Linked DNA regions of Homo sapiens. The main gene of each other region encodes a partner of the protein of the gene in region 2 in a complex. Each region holds a gene or a part of one and is shown on either strand. Other genes may lie near its edges. A codon is read from its position in the direction of its gene.

Evidence for each region. The genes of interacting proteins can lie anywhere in the genome.
Region 1: the proteins of NDP (region 2) and FZD4 are in contact, whole or in part, in a crystal structure (PDB 5BQE), measured with the Homo sapiens proteins. Residues at the interface, in NP_000257.1 of Homo sapiens: Asp33 (codon at 2,160), Ser34 (codon at 2,157), Pro36 (codon at 2,151), Arg38 (codon at 2,145), Met40 (codon at 2,139), Arg41 (codon at 2,136), His42 (codon at 2,133), His43 (codon at 2,130), Tyr44 (codon at 2,127), Val45 (codon at 2,124), Asp46 (codon at 2,121), Lys58 (codon at 2,085), Met59, Val60, Leu61, Lys102, Lys104, Leu106, Tyr122, Leu124, Ser125; in NP_036325.2 of Homo sapiens: Ser51 (codon at 2,551), Met52 (codon at 2,548), Gln54 (codon at 2,542), Asn55 (codon at 2,539), Leu56 (codon at 2,536), Gly57 (codon at 2,533), Gln95 (codon at 2,419), Phe96 (codon at 86), Met105 (codon at 59), Thr107 (codon at 53), Lys109 (codon at 47), Ile114 (codon at 32), Asn152, His154, Met157, Cys158, Met159, Glu160, Gly161, Pro162.

The regions. Positions count from the first base shown.
Region 1 is NC_000011.10:86,952,385-86,959,894, forward strand, and holds the start of FZD4 (frizzled-4 precursor), read right to left. Parts: upstream 3,012-7,510; 5' UTR 2,702-3,011; coding exon 2,417-2,701; intron 527-2,416; exon of another isoform or gene 87-526; coding exon 1-86. UniProt on the Homo sapiens protein: Receptor for Wnt proteins.
Region 2 is NC_000023.11:43,956,390-43,963,410, forward strand, and holds part of NDP (norrin precursor), read right to left. Parts: intron 4,506-7,021; exon of another isoform or gene 4,396-4,505; intron 2,464-4,395; 5' UTR 2,257-2,463; coding exon 2,083-2,256; intron 1-2,082. UniProt on the Homo sapiens protein: Activates the canonical Wnt signaling pathway through FZD4 and LRP5 coreceptor.

The DNA of each region.
Region 1 (7,510 bases), on a different chromosome or scaffold from region 2:
ACTGAAAGACACATGCCGCCGCATGGGCCAATGGGGATGTTGATCTTCTCTGTGCACATTGGCACATAAACAGAACAAAGGAAGAACTGGAAAAGTAACAAAATGAACACACACAAAAAAAACAATGACTTGGAAGTTTGACCAAATGCTCCCACAAAGCTGAGTTGAATGCTTCCAGGCAATCTAGGTATCTACTTTTAAACCAACCTATCGGGAGTCTGTCTGTTTACTCTGACCTCAAACAAGGGCGCCTGATAATCCATCACTTACATACTTTTCTTAGTTTGGCTTTAGTAATCCTTTCCAGAAGAATGTACATAAATAAATAAATAAAATAAATAGGGTCTGAAGAATTGCATAAGCCCTCTTTGCACAACACTTGAAATAAATCTTAAAAAACTGGCTTTCAATCTCCTTCCATTTTAGAAACTATTTGAAAAAGCTAAAGAAACTAATATGACTCATTTAGGTGGTTTATTTTTATCCCCGTTTCTTTATCATTTTAAAAATAAAAGTTAAAAAAAAATGTAGATCCTGTTAGTATTCTCTTCTCCCTAATTTATCCCTTAAAAATTTGTTTAAACTAGTCCCATACTGAAACAAAAAATGGCCCAAATGAGACACTGTTAGACTCAAGGATGGGATGCAGATTGAGGTCTCTGGTCACTAGGGATTTGTTTGGCCAGGTTTCCTCAATGAATAATAATGAAGCACAATAGGAAAATGTAAATGTTAAGTCGCTGAAACTGCAGTACCAGCAGGGGAGAGTCCAGTTGCTGTCCTCAATTCCTCCAGCATTGATAAACAGTCTGCTTGGCTCCTTACAGATGTTGTCTATGAAGTCTAGAGTTACAAGTAACTATTTTCCAGCATGTAAAGGGATCCAGTCTTGTCCTTCAAAACAGCTTGGCCGCTTTCCCCAGGATACATGTAATTAAAAATATATATCCCTGCAAAAGCTGTTTCTCCAACAAATTGCCACTGATGTCAGGATATGTGCTGTTTCCAAACTGAGAGCTGGAGGATCATTTCTTAAGCTTTTATAACCTAGTTCTAAAGTTCTGAAACTTCCAAAGGGATATTTTAGCAGCAACAGGTCTAATCCCCACCATCTTTCCAAAACCACAAACCAAGTTTTAAAATGACCTATGTAAAAACATGCACCTAGTAAGTAAGCTGTATGTCTGTTTATTATCTCTCAGAAGTTACAGCCAGAACCACAGATTTCTTTTCTTTTCTTTTTTTTTTTGATACGGAGTTTCGCTCCTGTGGCCCAGGCTAGAGTGCAATGGTGCAATCCCCGCTCACTGCAACCTCTGCCTCCTGGGTTCAAGCGATTCTCCTGCCTCAGCCTCCTGAGTAGCTGGGATTACAGGCGCACGCCACCACGCCCGGCTAATTTTTGTACTTTTAGTAGAGACAGGATTTCGCCATGTTGGTCAGGCTGGTCTCGAACTCCTAACCTCGTGAGCCACCTGCCTCGGCCTCCCAAAGTGCTGGGATTACAGGCGTGAGCCACTGCGCCCGGCCAGAAACCAGATTTCTGAAGCCTGGACAACTAACGTCTACTTTTTCCCACAACTTCTCTCTTTTCTAAATTTCTAAAAATCACCCAGCCTCACCAACCCAAACATAACCAATGTTAACACTTTAAAAATTTTCCTGTCAGTCTTTTATTATCCCAATAAATTTTTTATTTTGCAGGATTATAATCACCCTGTATATGCAAATTCTTATTACTGTGGAATAAACATTTTCTCTATCATTAGATATGCTTTACATTTTTTAATGACTGCAAAAAAATTTCTTCCAATATACCAACCACCTTCCTGCAGCTTCTTCTCACCCTCCAAGCATTAAACGTGCCTTCAACTGTGAGGATAAGAAAGAACTCAAGCCAACCCAACCACTCCTTCATGCATGACCTCTAAAACGCTGCGGGACGTCGTGAGAAGGGGCTATTCAGCAGAAAAAGGTGCAGTAGTGTTTCATTTAATAACACCCCAAAAATAGTGGGGAGAAGGAAGTTCGGTGAAGGATGGTCTCCTTATCACTCCCTCCAAGTCTTAGCTGCAGCTGGCTCCCTCCCACTCGCCCACCGAGCAGTGGCGGCCAGAATCCTTGGCAGAGATAACCCTCAGCTCCACTGGGGTTAGGGGTCTGGGCCAGACATGGGTGGGCAAGAGAGAAAAACGGAAGGGCGGGGTGTAAGAGTGGGTTCTTTCCCAGGCCAGATGACTTACACAACGTTTTGGCTTCCAGTCCCTGAGAAAGTGGGGGTGGGGATGGAAATCACTTTTCCAGGAGAGCTGTCTCCTTCGGGCTAGGATGATCAACTTGGCATGGGCTCTGCAAAGTTAGTTTGGAGCGTCCCTCCCCAAGGGGTCCCGCCAGGGGTGGGGGTGGGGGCGCCCACCTGCAGCTGGCTGGAGCAGCCGTACTGGATGAGCGGTGTGAAAGTTGTCAGCTGCAGCTCGGCGTCCGTCTGCAGCTCGTGCCCAACCAGGTTGGGCATCTTGGTCACGTTGTAGCCGAGGTTCTGGCACATGGAGATGCGGATGGGGTCGCAGCGCCGCTCTTCCTCGTCCCCGAAGCCCCGCGCCGGCCCCAGGAGCAGCAGCAACTGCAGGAGCAACCCCAGACTGAGACCGACGCCCCCGGGCGCCCCCGGGACGCTCGGCCCTGCGCCCCGCCAGGCCATGGCCAGCATCGGGGGTAGCAGCGGCAGCGGCTGGGGCTGCTCTGGCAGACACCCCCAGTTTGCACGGGGGCGCCGGCTGCCCGCGCTGCTCCCAGCTCCCGGGACGGGAGTGTGATGCGGCGACGAGGGGGCAGCGGCCGGCTCTCCAGCAGCTGCGCGCGACTGTGTGGGATTTTAGACGTCCCGGGCCGAGGCCGAGGGACAGGCTGCGAGGGTCATGGCTGCAGGCGGCGAGCCCACAAGCCGGCGCCGGCCGCGTCCGTTCGGCGTCTCCGCGAGGCCAGCCAGCAGCCAGCGCTGCGCAGCTCTCACCGCCGGAGCCCTGCGCGGCGCTGGAGGCTCGCGGCGCGGCGGCGGGGCGGGACGGACAGCGGGCCTCTCCAATGGCCGGGCGCGGTGGGCAGCTAGGGGCGAGGCGGCGGGGCGGGGCCGCTCTCCCGCAGGAGGAGTCAGGCCCCCGCCCTCCGGCCCCCTCCTCCGGCCGCCCCTCCCTCCCTCCCTCCCCTAGCGCCCCGCCCCGCCCGCCTCCCGGCTCTTGCTTTCCTCCCACCCGGATCTAGGCGCGCAGGGGCCAAGCAGGGACGCAGCCCAGTGGCTCCAGCCACGCCGTCCTGCCCCCTTCTGCAGGTGAGAAGTGCGCCCTGTTCCATCTGCCCCCTTTCCTTCCTGTCTCCTTTCAGCTGTAACCTAGGCCGGTGGCCACCTCCCCGTCAGGCAGAGAAACGTACACAAAGAATTGGGGATTTGGATTTACACCGATTGTGGCTTTCAGTCCCGGTTGTGTGACCTTGAGCAAATTGCTCAACCCCTCGGCGTCAGTCTCCTCTGTAAAGTCACTTGGGAGGATTAGAGATAAAGTGTAGAAGGCTTAGCATGGTGCCTGGTACTGCGTGAGTCCACAGCTATTTTCACTCCGGACCAGCGGCGATCGGGGCCCGGCCTCTCCCCGCCCCCAGACTCGCCCGACCTGCGCAGGGAGCCGCCCACCTCCAGCCGCCAGCGGGGAGGCGCCCCAGAGCTGCGGAGCTGCAGACCCGCCGACGGTCTCGCGCTCTGATTTCCTCACCGTATGAAATGAAATTCCACAGGGGGATTCGAAAGGAAATGAGACCGGGACTCTCCGTGCTTCTCGGCCCGCCGCCCTTCCTGTCTCGGGGACACGGTTTCTAAATAAGGTTGGGAGGGTGAGAGGGCGGGAGGGGAGAGGCTTGACCTGTGCACTGGGGACGAGGAAGGCGCACAACCACCGTGACTCCTCTCTCCCGGCCTCCCGGGCACCCCCTCCCCACCAGGCTGCACCCCTTTTTTTCTTTGCTTCTGCTTCGGCTCCTAGGGATCTGGGGATCATGTGACCCAGGTTTGAACCCAACTTTCCTGTCTCATTACCAGCCCCCCGCGGCTTTGTGCTGGTCCACCCTCTCTCTGCTTTCCAGTCGGCCAGTAAACTCCCAGCAGGTGGATTCCTCCACCGTTTACTTGTTGCTTGACTGTGTTGAAGCTATGGTGCCTCTCTGAGCCTCAAAGTGGCCGGCTGTAAAGTGGGGAAGTTCATATCCACCTCACACAGTTGTTCTAAGAGTTCAGTGAGATAATACCTGTAAATCATTTAGCAGTGTCTGACACATAATAAATGCTGAAGAACTTGGTGATTGGGGTGTGTGTGTGTGTGTGTGTGTGTGTGTGTGTGTGTGTATGTGTTTCCAAAACAGCTAGGGGAGATCAATTATGGGACAGCCTCCTGCTTTCCAGCCTGGTGCTAAAGACAGCTCCAGCAGCCCCGGAATGAGGATCTGGGTAAAAGGCTTTTCACCCTCTTCCTGAGATCTTTTTGTCCAACACTTGCCACTGTTTTATGCATGTTTTTATCCTCCCATTTCAGCCAATTCTGTGGCATATGGCAGAGGCTAGATGCAAGTTGGAAGAATGTCTGTGCCACTCATGTGACACTCATATTCTGTCTTGTATTTTTAGTCTTCTTATATTGGCAACGAGACTTGACTGAGGGCAAAAATGGAATCAACTTTTTTTTGGTATTTGGCTCTGTGCCTAGAACTGTGTTGGACACGGAGAAGCTGCATTGTCTCCAGTCATCATCATAAACTCCCAGTGAAGGAGGTTCCGTTAGCTCCTTATAGAGATTAGGAAACTGAGGCTAGAACCACAGTAATAGAAAATGACAAGACCAACCAAACCAGGGCCCAGAAGAGGCTCTTCAAAGATGGAAGGCAGGGCTATTTTCCCAGAAAAAATTCCCAGCTGGAAATCAATGTACTCAGCAATAGGATTGAATCTCTGTGTGCCTGTGCTGAGTAATGCATAAAACCCTTGGCCTACAGAGATGAATAAACGATCAGATGTAGAGATCAAATGATCTATTAATCATTTGGGTTACAGAGATGAATATATAATCAGATGAACAGATCAAATGAATAGATAATCCTCATCCTTTAGGATCTCACAGGAGGAGACAAAGGATTAACAAACAACAATAACTTAGTTTGCTAAGTGCACAGATAGAGAATTGTGGGTGAATTGAAGGTAGAAGTGGCTGAGTCTGGAGGGCTACTCAAAGGGGGATGACCTGCAAGACTCGTAGCTACTCAACAAAGTGTAGTTAGTATGCAATTGGCCCTTCTTCTAGGGAAGAGTGGTGGTGGTGGGGTGTGCTTTGTGCTGAAGATATGGTTACATGGTTTATTAAACAGTGAACTCCCTGAGGTCAAGGAGGAGGACCTGTCCCTCATACAGGGCCTGGCACACAAGGAACATCATTTGTTCTGGGTGAAGGAATACTGTTTTCAAATCAATAACAAACCACTCATATAGAACTCTTACTTTCAGACACTGTGTTACATGCCTTACATTCTTAATTTTATTTATTTCTCACAACTTGCAGAAACTGATGCTCTGAGAGGCCAAGCAGTTTGCCCAAGATTACACAGTAAGTCGTAGAGAAGAACTCATGCATGTCTGCCTGGCCCTAAACTCTGTGTGCATGGTACTGCTCTTGCAGAGGAAACTGCTTCACGCCCAGCCTAATCCATAGTTAAAGATGACCATTTTGTGATCTGGACCTCTTATTCCTAGACCTGGCATCCTGCCTCAGCTTGCTTGAAGCAATTGTCTCCTTTGAGAACACATGAAGAAGCCCCTTCCCTATCAGAAGCTTTTTCTGTCAACAGCTTTTCTTTCTAGTCGTGGAACTCATCACCAGTATTTTCCAAAAAAGAAAGCTAGGGGAATCACATTTCAGTCTGAATGTGGAAAGACAACAAAGACCATAACTTAGAGCTAAATCTGAATGGCCTGGAGCCCCTCAGCCTCCCTCTCCTGGAGTGGTTTACACAGTCCACAATCTGCCCCTGGTGACAGGCATGGCATGTTTGTCTTTGTTACAGAAAACACTTCCCGAGGGAGTCCCAGGCAGAGGGATATCCACCCTGTGACATGCACAGCATTTCTGAGAGGAAAAGATAGGGACACCTGAATAAAGTGTAGGCCATGGGCCCCTGCTAACTCTGGCTTGAGTGCCTGGGCAGTTTCCTTGGTCCAGCCTCTGAGCAGTAAAGATTCAACTACTTTGGAGCTGCAACAAACATGACTTCAACAGTCTGTTGGGCAGTTGGAGGGCTCTCCATTTGTATCTAATAAGAGGCTGGGTTCTTATTAACTCCGGTGATGTGTTAATTTTTCAACCTGACGTTTTCTGCTCTAATAGATTCTTGTAATGCTTACTAAATTAAAGGCTGCATTGGAAGAGTAATGTTTAGGTTAAAATGCATCACCTAAGGGGGTGGAAGCTATAAACATCCTTTCCCTCCTACGGGAAAATCTCTCATTTGCGGCTCTTTGCTAACCCAATTAAGTGCTGAAGTAGTTACCCTAGAGCCTGCTTTTTATTTCCTATGAAACAATCCAACTAATCCATATTCAGTAGCTTCCAAGAAAAGTCTTATTCCAACCACTCATGAAGAAACCAGCTTCTTTGAATCTAGATAGAACATTTAGAACTCACAAAGAGCTGTCTTGATGGAAAGTGCAAGAAAGTGGTTCATTATTATCTGCCTGGTTTTTGAGGGAAATAATTCACTGGGACTAAAACCCCATAAGTATTGGGAATTTACTGTGGAACAACAAAAGCAAAGCAAGAAGATGCCATGCCACATTCCATCCATTTATAAATAGGGTGTTACATCTCCCCCTGCACCCAAACTAGTTATAAAACAAAAGTGCGCCTGCTGAGTAAGGTGGAAGGGAACACTGATCTTACTTCGAGCTGAGGAATCAAAGTTCCCAAGAGATTAATACCTATTAAGTGGCAGAGCCAAACTCCCTTCTTAGTCCATTGCACCACTAGCTAGCAGAGAAGAATTGTCACCACAGAGCTCTTGCATGTCAAGAAATAGAAGCTCAAAATTTTTCCTACCCATAAGTTTAGCAAGCATTAAATGGTACATCAGACATCCTTATTTATTGGTGGTGATGAGTTAACGCAAAGATGAACAACCAAAAACCTCCATGGAAGGCAAAAAATAATGCAAACACACTTTTACCTCCATAGCCTCGTTTCGTTTCAGTGAAATTGATCAGTCAAGCTGTTAACAAATATTTAGTGATGGGTTATTGTGGACATGTCATTGAGCTGGGTACTAGGGAGTATGCAGACATGTTAAAGGTGGTTTCTGCCTTCAAGGAGCTTACAGTCACATTGGGGAAGATTAAGACATGAGACCAAGGGCAAAACAAGTTTTTTATGGTTAAGTGCATTTTGTTGAGCTTTCTTATTTCCAGTCTCCCCTTGTTGTTTTA
Region 2 (7,021 bases):
CTTTTCTTTGTAAAAAGAAGCTAGGGTAGATTGTTGTTGCCTCTTTTCTAGACATAGGCTAAATGTTTTATCCAAGTCTCTAAAGGCAAACAATTTCATTAAGTGAGACCCATTAGAGAAAAGATCAGCCCGAGAATGTAAGAGTTAAGAATTATAGAACATTTCCAAATGAAAACAGTTTTGCTCCTGGATACATAGAGAAAAATCTAACCTAGAAAAGGTCTGGGTAGTTGAGATTTTGCCAGGCATATTTTATGGCCAGGGAAGAAAGGTTTATAATTGCAAGCACCATTTACATAAAACTATTGCTATATTTGGGATAGTTTGGGATGTTTGAAAACAGATTGTTCCCATGAAATTACAAACATTTCTCCTGCTATCACAATTTTGCGCTGTTATTTGCCATGGCTTTCTGGAAGAAACAAAGGTGAATAACAGTACACTAAAGTCTGTTTCTAAGACTCATGCTCAGAATTCACATGTGAATTTCTTCGGTTTGAGTTCATGATGTCTCTTCTTTGACCTTCGCTAGATTAATGTGATTGTTGCCAAAGTACTCCTCCATCATTTTGTCCAGTCTTTCCAGATTGTTTTCTAGTTTTTATAGATGCTCCTATTTCTTTGTTCCTTTCTATCATCATAGTGACACTTTCTTTGAAATAATTTTAATTCCTTTTTTTAAAAAAGAATCACGATTATGGAGGACAACTCAATACGGAAAGAAATTATCCATGGAATAAAATCACTAAATATTCATGCTGTCTGTTTCTGAAGGGGGAGGGAAGGAGAAACTAATAATTGCTGCAGTCAACCTTACATGGGCCCACAATTTCTGAGCAATCACACTTGTAAAAGCACTTCTCATGTTTTTTCTCAATTTGTTTTAGTTTCCCTTTCCTAAGAAGGAATTGTGGCCCTGCAAAAATTTATGTTCATCTATTTACTCCATTTTTTTTTGGTTCTACAAGCACAAATAAGAGCCAGAAAGTTTTTATTAAGTGGAAAATCTCTATTTTTTCCCACAGTCATAGATCTTATTAATATAATGGTTAAAATGATTTAACTCGAATTCTGATCCTCCTAAACTAAAATGAATCATCATCACTGAGCTATAATCAGAGAAATTAATGGAAATTTTCAAGGCATACAAAAGTCATAATGTTTTTGAATGGAGAGTGGAGGGATTGGCTTATATGGTCTTAATTCTGGTGATTGATACTATAAAAAATTCTTAATTATACTGGTAATTTCAAAAATTACTTGCCATACGAGAATGTTTAAGTGATTTTCATCTCAAAACTAAATGTAAAAATCTCTGAGGTTGGGCTAAACAAATTATTATTTACCAAGTGTGGACAAATTTCATTCATTGTGCCTGTTTAGGGGCAGTGACAGTCGTGAGATCTCGTATGTTCCACCCTACAATGTGCCTCCCTTCTGGGTGGTCCATGTAGCTGGCCACTCTTGGTGGCCTTTTAAGCATGATATTCCCTTGCACACCACTGAGGCACGGACTGCCTCTGCAAGAAACATGCATCCTTTTCCAAATGAGAACGATTTGGATAAGCAATGTAAAAATGATAAATGATCATATTGCCATCTTATCTTTTGAAATCATTTGAACAGAAATGTAGCACCTGAAGAAAGGCTCAGACCACAAAGCCAGTTATTTCACCAAGAATCTCTTTAAAGAGCCCTCCAAGAAGTATGTTCCACTGCTCAATCGCATTCTTTGCATTCTCTTCCTCTTTATTGATGATGGAGCTAGAGAGTTATGATGACTTGTAAACTCCATTTTTCTTTTTTGGAAAAGCACACTACCACTCATAAACATCACAGCCAGGGACAAAGGACACCTGTCCCACTGGATGGGTGTGCACATGATTGATTAGGCACTTTTACTGATAACAGTGCAAAGCACGGGGGGAAATTCTAAAAGCCTCATTCTCCCACAAGCCCTGTGGGCCAGCCACATCACTTAAGTTTGGGCTATGATCTTAGTTCTCCATCCCCTGACAAAGAAATATGGCTTCTTGCCTGTTTCTGAGGGAAATGCTCTCCTCACAGAGACCTTGGTCTTACCTTTGAGCTACACTTGTACAATGGGTGACTGATAGAATCCACATAGTGGTGCCTCATGCAGCGTCGAGGGTCCGAGTCCATTATGAATGAGCTGTCCGTTTTACTGTCTGTATCTCCCATTATCACCAGCAGGGAGAGCATAGAAAAGGATGCAGCTAGTACATGTTTTCTCATTGTTGTAAGGAAAAACTTCTCTAGAAGAACAGCAGAGGGAGGCAGAGGACAAAAAATTGGAAATGGCTTCACCTCCTAGGATCCAGTCCCGTTCAAGGAAAGGGCAGGATCGGGCTGAAGCTTTCTGGTTGTCATTGTCCTTTATGTGCTGGAGTTTTGTCTTACTCTTTGCACTTGCAATCCATCATCACAGTATCTGCTGCACAGCTGGAATGAAAACAGAAATTACTTTCCCCAGAATTATTTACCCAGAACCACTAATGGAACCCAGGAGGTATTAAGTAGAATTTTTCCATGTTATTTTGAGAGGAGAATATTGGTTTCTAGAGCGTCATTAGCAAAGGCTGTCATCCATTCCACCCCAACTCCCATAGCTTATGCTACATATTTATAACCATTTGGAGGTGGACACAATGGTTTAATGGAAGCACATGTTGACTTTAATTGCTGAAGTCCATGTTCCTAGGGCCAAGAATAGTTTGAACCCATGTTAAAGATTAAACATGTTGTTCTGGCAACAACGTAACCGAATTGGGTGGTCTCATCTTTGTCCTTGGTTGGTCGGGGCGGGAGGGTCTATTCAGTTTCTCAGCAAGCTTTGGTGTCAGCGTCAGCTTACAGGGCTAGAGAGGAGGCAGGTCAGCACTAATGAACACAAGCCATGTCCCACAGGGAAGCACATTTTCCATTTCCAAGTCCATACTCACCCACCCACCTAATTTTCCACTTCTGTGCTCTAGGCTCATCCTGTTTTTGTTTTAAGCCCCATAGCACCCAGCACTGATGACAAACTGCATCTGAAATACACATTATGCTAACTGGCCTCCAGCATGGTTAAGGTATCACACGCGTATTTGCCAACAGAGTCACATTTCTGCAGAGCCTTTGTAGCCTGGGCACATGGTGTAATTCGAAAAAGAAAGCAGTTGTTGGAACAGACTTACCATTAAAATAGGATCATATTATACCGGTTTTTCTGAAATTTGCTTTGTTCTTTTGACCATACCTCTTGGACAAAGGACTGGGGTCCAGAGATCTCTCCAGATTACCTCACTAACTCCCCAGGCATAGCCAACACTGGTGCCTTCTTTTTTTTAACCACAACAGAAGACAGAAAGTATCAAAAATATTTTCAAACATTTAGGAAAATTGGGAGGGCCTGCTATTACATCCAAAACAAAAGGAACATGATAATTAAAGCTTCGGGAAAACTTTCAAAGGTATTTCAGATAAAAGTTTGATCATTTTGTTCATAGGCAACATTTTCCTTAACTTCCTACTCATGAACAGTCTGAATAAACAGGGCAAAGTGTTGATAAAATCAAGATTAGGAGTTCAAGTTGGCATAAGCCAATTTATTTTGCACTAATAGAATGGCATCAGACCCATTTAGCCTCAATTAGCTGTCTTGGAAGTGTGAGGTAGGGGATCCTAAGTGGAAAGGGGTGTGTGAGATAGGGCTGTTTCAGAGCACAGAATCCCTGGCAATAGCAAAGCCTCAGCACATGTGCCTCAGGGAAGTCCTATAAATTGCAGGAAGGGCAAGGACCAGTAATGAGGGAACCCACCTGGACTTGAGTCCTGGCACTGCCATTAATTAGCTGGGGAAGCCTTACACAAGTCATTCAACCTCCTCTAGCCCAAGTTTCCTCATCTGTAGAGGGAAGGAGTTGACAGAGATGGCATCTGCTGTCCCTTTGTGTTCTAAAATGCCACCACTTGATAACTATGGATTCAGTTACTATCATCTCCATATGCAGACAGTGAGCCCAAAGTTGACGAGACCATATTCCAGCACAACTTTGCACCACTTTATGTTCATGCTAATAGCAACATCTCATTGAAATAAATCAAACCTGTGCCCAAAGTTTCAAATCTGCAAAGGATGCAGAAGAGCATGTTTGTTTTCTTTTCATCTGCATAATCTGGGTTTTCCTATACACGTTACCCTGAAAATTACCAAGACAACAACTCAAAGAGCCAGAACTTTCTTGGGGTCCACTTTCAGAGGATGAAATATTACTGACCATTTCCCAAGTTTCACTGTGACTAAATTATCCCAAGTGGTTATCTGTCTCTTTGAAGCCTTAATTAGTGTCAGAAAGAGAATTGATTAGATTTCACTGCTTCGGTCTACAGATATTTCCCCCAGGAGTCAATGGCAAAAGGATGAAGAGAGAAGCAGACATTCCAGTCCTGGCCCTTCTTCTGCACTGCCAGCAACTTCTCTTCAGAGCCATGGCCAGGAGGTATGGTTAAATGAGCAAAGCAAATTAAAGAACATCATGTACAGCATGATGGCAAAAACAAGCTACATCAATAACAAAACCCTATACATGTGTATGCATCGTTGTATTTATTGGCATTTCCACTTTCTCCACAGAAAAAGGAAATATAAAGGGCCCTTAAAGATAGAAGAGAATTTAAGAGAATAAAAGTCTCATTTAAGAGAATGAAAATTAAAGTACTTTGAAATACATTGTTCAACCAATCAGATTTACAAAGATTCCGAAGTCTGATCATGCACCCTATTGGCAAGGCTGTGGGAAAACAAGTCCATTTTGGAGAAAGTTCAGTATAAATTGGTCCAAACTCTGTAGAGGCCAATCTGGCAATACCTTTTAAAAATGCAAATGTATATAATTTAGACCCAGCAATTCCACTTCTGTGAATTATCCTACATGTGAAATCACATGAGCACATGGCTGAAATAGCATAAAATTGGAAACAGCATGAAATATCCATTAATAGGGGACTGGTTAATTATATTCTAAAATGTTCACACAACAATATACTAACCAACTATATATGGAAGGATGCAGAAACTCTATGTATTGATTTGAGTTAAAATGGAGAGAGATAAAAACACATATTTGTATAGCAAAGCTCTGAAAGGATACCCAAGAAACTAACAAAATTAGTTACCTGTGGTAGTTGAGGGACAGGCATGAGAGAAAGACTTTTCACTATATATCTTTTCGTATTTTTAGATTTTTGAGCTTGTGAATGTATACTTTATTTAAAATTTCATTAAAAAATAAGGCTTTCTCTTTTAAAAGCTCAGCTTAAATATGGTAACTAAGTTAATGGATGTTTACTGTTTGTGCCAGTTTGAGTATTTTAAAAATATTATATTTTTATTTCTTATAATTACGGGAAGGCATGCTAGTCTCTTAGTCAAATACTCTTCCAGGGCGACCACATAGTTCTTGTACATTACTGCCACCTAGTAGCACCATCCTGAATTGCAAGCACAGTTTAAAATTTTTTCCTAAAAATGAATAAAACACTTTGCAAGCAGATATTATGACATTTACACAGATAAAGAGATAGTTAATGTCACATACAATGTAACTTGATCATCTGGCTTTCTCTTTAGAGATGGTGAGCTGAACCCAGAAGTAATATTAAAGAATGAAAGATTGACAGGAAATGTTGCTTTACCATTAATTCTAAGAAACAGATTTTTCATTTCAACACACTCAGAAAACGTGAGAGTTGTTGCCCAGTTTTTATCTTAAATTCTGAAATAAGAATGTAAGCAACAATGTAAATATGCCACAAAACTCACAGAACCCTCAAAACAAAAACAAAAAGGTAAGATTCTGAAAACATAACCTGGGATTTTTTTTTTTTTTTTTGCCTTGAGTGTTCAAATTGAATGAACCAACACTGTTGTATTGAAGAAGAAATGAAAACAAAGCTTAAGAAAAGAGCAATGCTAAGTCAAGTTGTCAACATTGTGTTGCTCAGGGTGTGCATAGGTGAGAATGTGCAAAGTATGGGAGTGGGAGGAAGACCTCACAAAGAGGAAAATCAGGAATTAAGAAAATGTACACCACTGAGATCACCACTTTCTGGCAGCCTAGAATTATCTCTGCCTTGTAGCAGCTTCTGTTGTTTTCTCAAAACTAAATTAATTCCAGTTTGCCTTAATTTTTTAAGACGTGTCATAAAATCAAATGCTGCCTACGAAGACTTAGAACCTTGGCCCAGGCAATAATGGATTGAACAAGAGAATGACTCTCTTGCTGAACTCAGTAGCCCTGTGGCCACGCTATGCTCTGGATACAGTCTCTGAGACATGGACTTGGCCGACGTACAGAGCCCACATTCTAATAGCTCCAATGTGGAGCCTCTGCCGGCAGGAGAGGCACGTAGGCTGGCGTGCCCGACTTTGGAGCTACCTTCCAAATGATACCAGTGGAAAAGAACAACTGGTGCCCAGATTTCCCCACCTGTCATCCTCAGGGAAATAATATAGCAGAGCTTACAGCGGGCCCAGCCTCCTGGGTGAGAGATGGTGTTGTGCCCACAGATCAGCTCACTCTTGGGCTGACCTTCTGGCTGGCAGAGGGTAAAGTGCTGGTTTCACGCAAGTTATCTCAGCAACAGGCTAAGTGGTATGTGCCAAGAATGGCCTTATTCTTGCCTTGCTTGCCAGGCACAGGAGGGTGGTGCTTCAGTATCCATATTTCCCCCTAGGCTGTTTTCAATACTAATGTATACTGATATTCCCTTCTGTGGCTTCTTTCAACAAATATTTTTTAACATGTATTTATTGAGCACCTACTGTGTGTCTCCTTTTGCTCTAGCAGATAAGAGATAGGGTCAGGGGAAAAATATAGTTCCTATCCTCGATCCCTCTTCTAGCTCACTGACTCTGCAGGCAGAGTCTTGGCCTGTTGTTTTCCTGGATGGTTTTTAGACACATTGATAAACTCTCTGAACATCTAATTTGTATCCAGTATTCATTGCATCATTT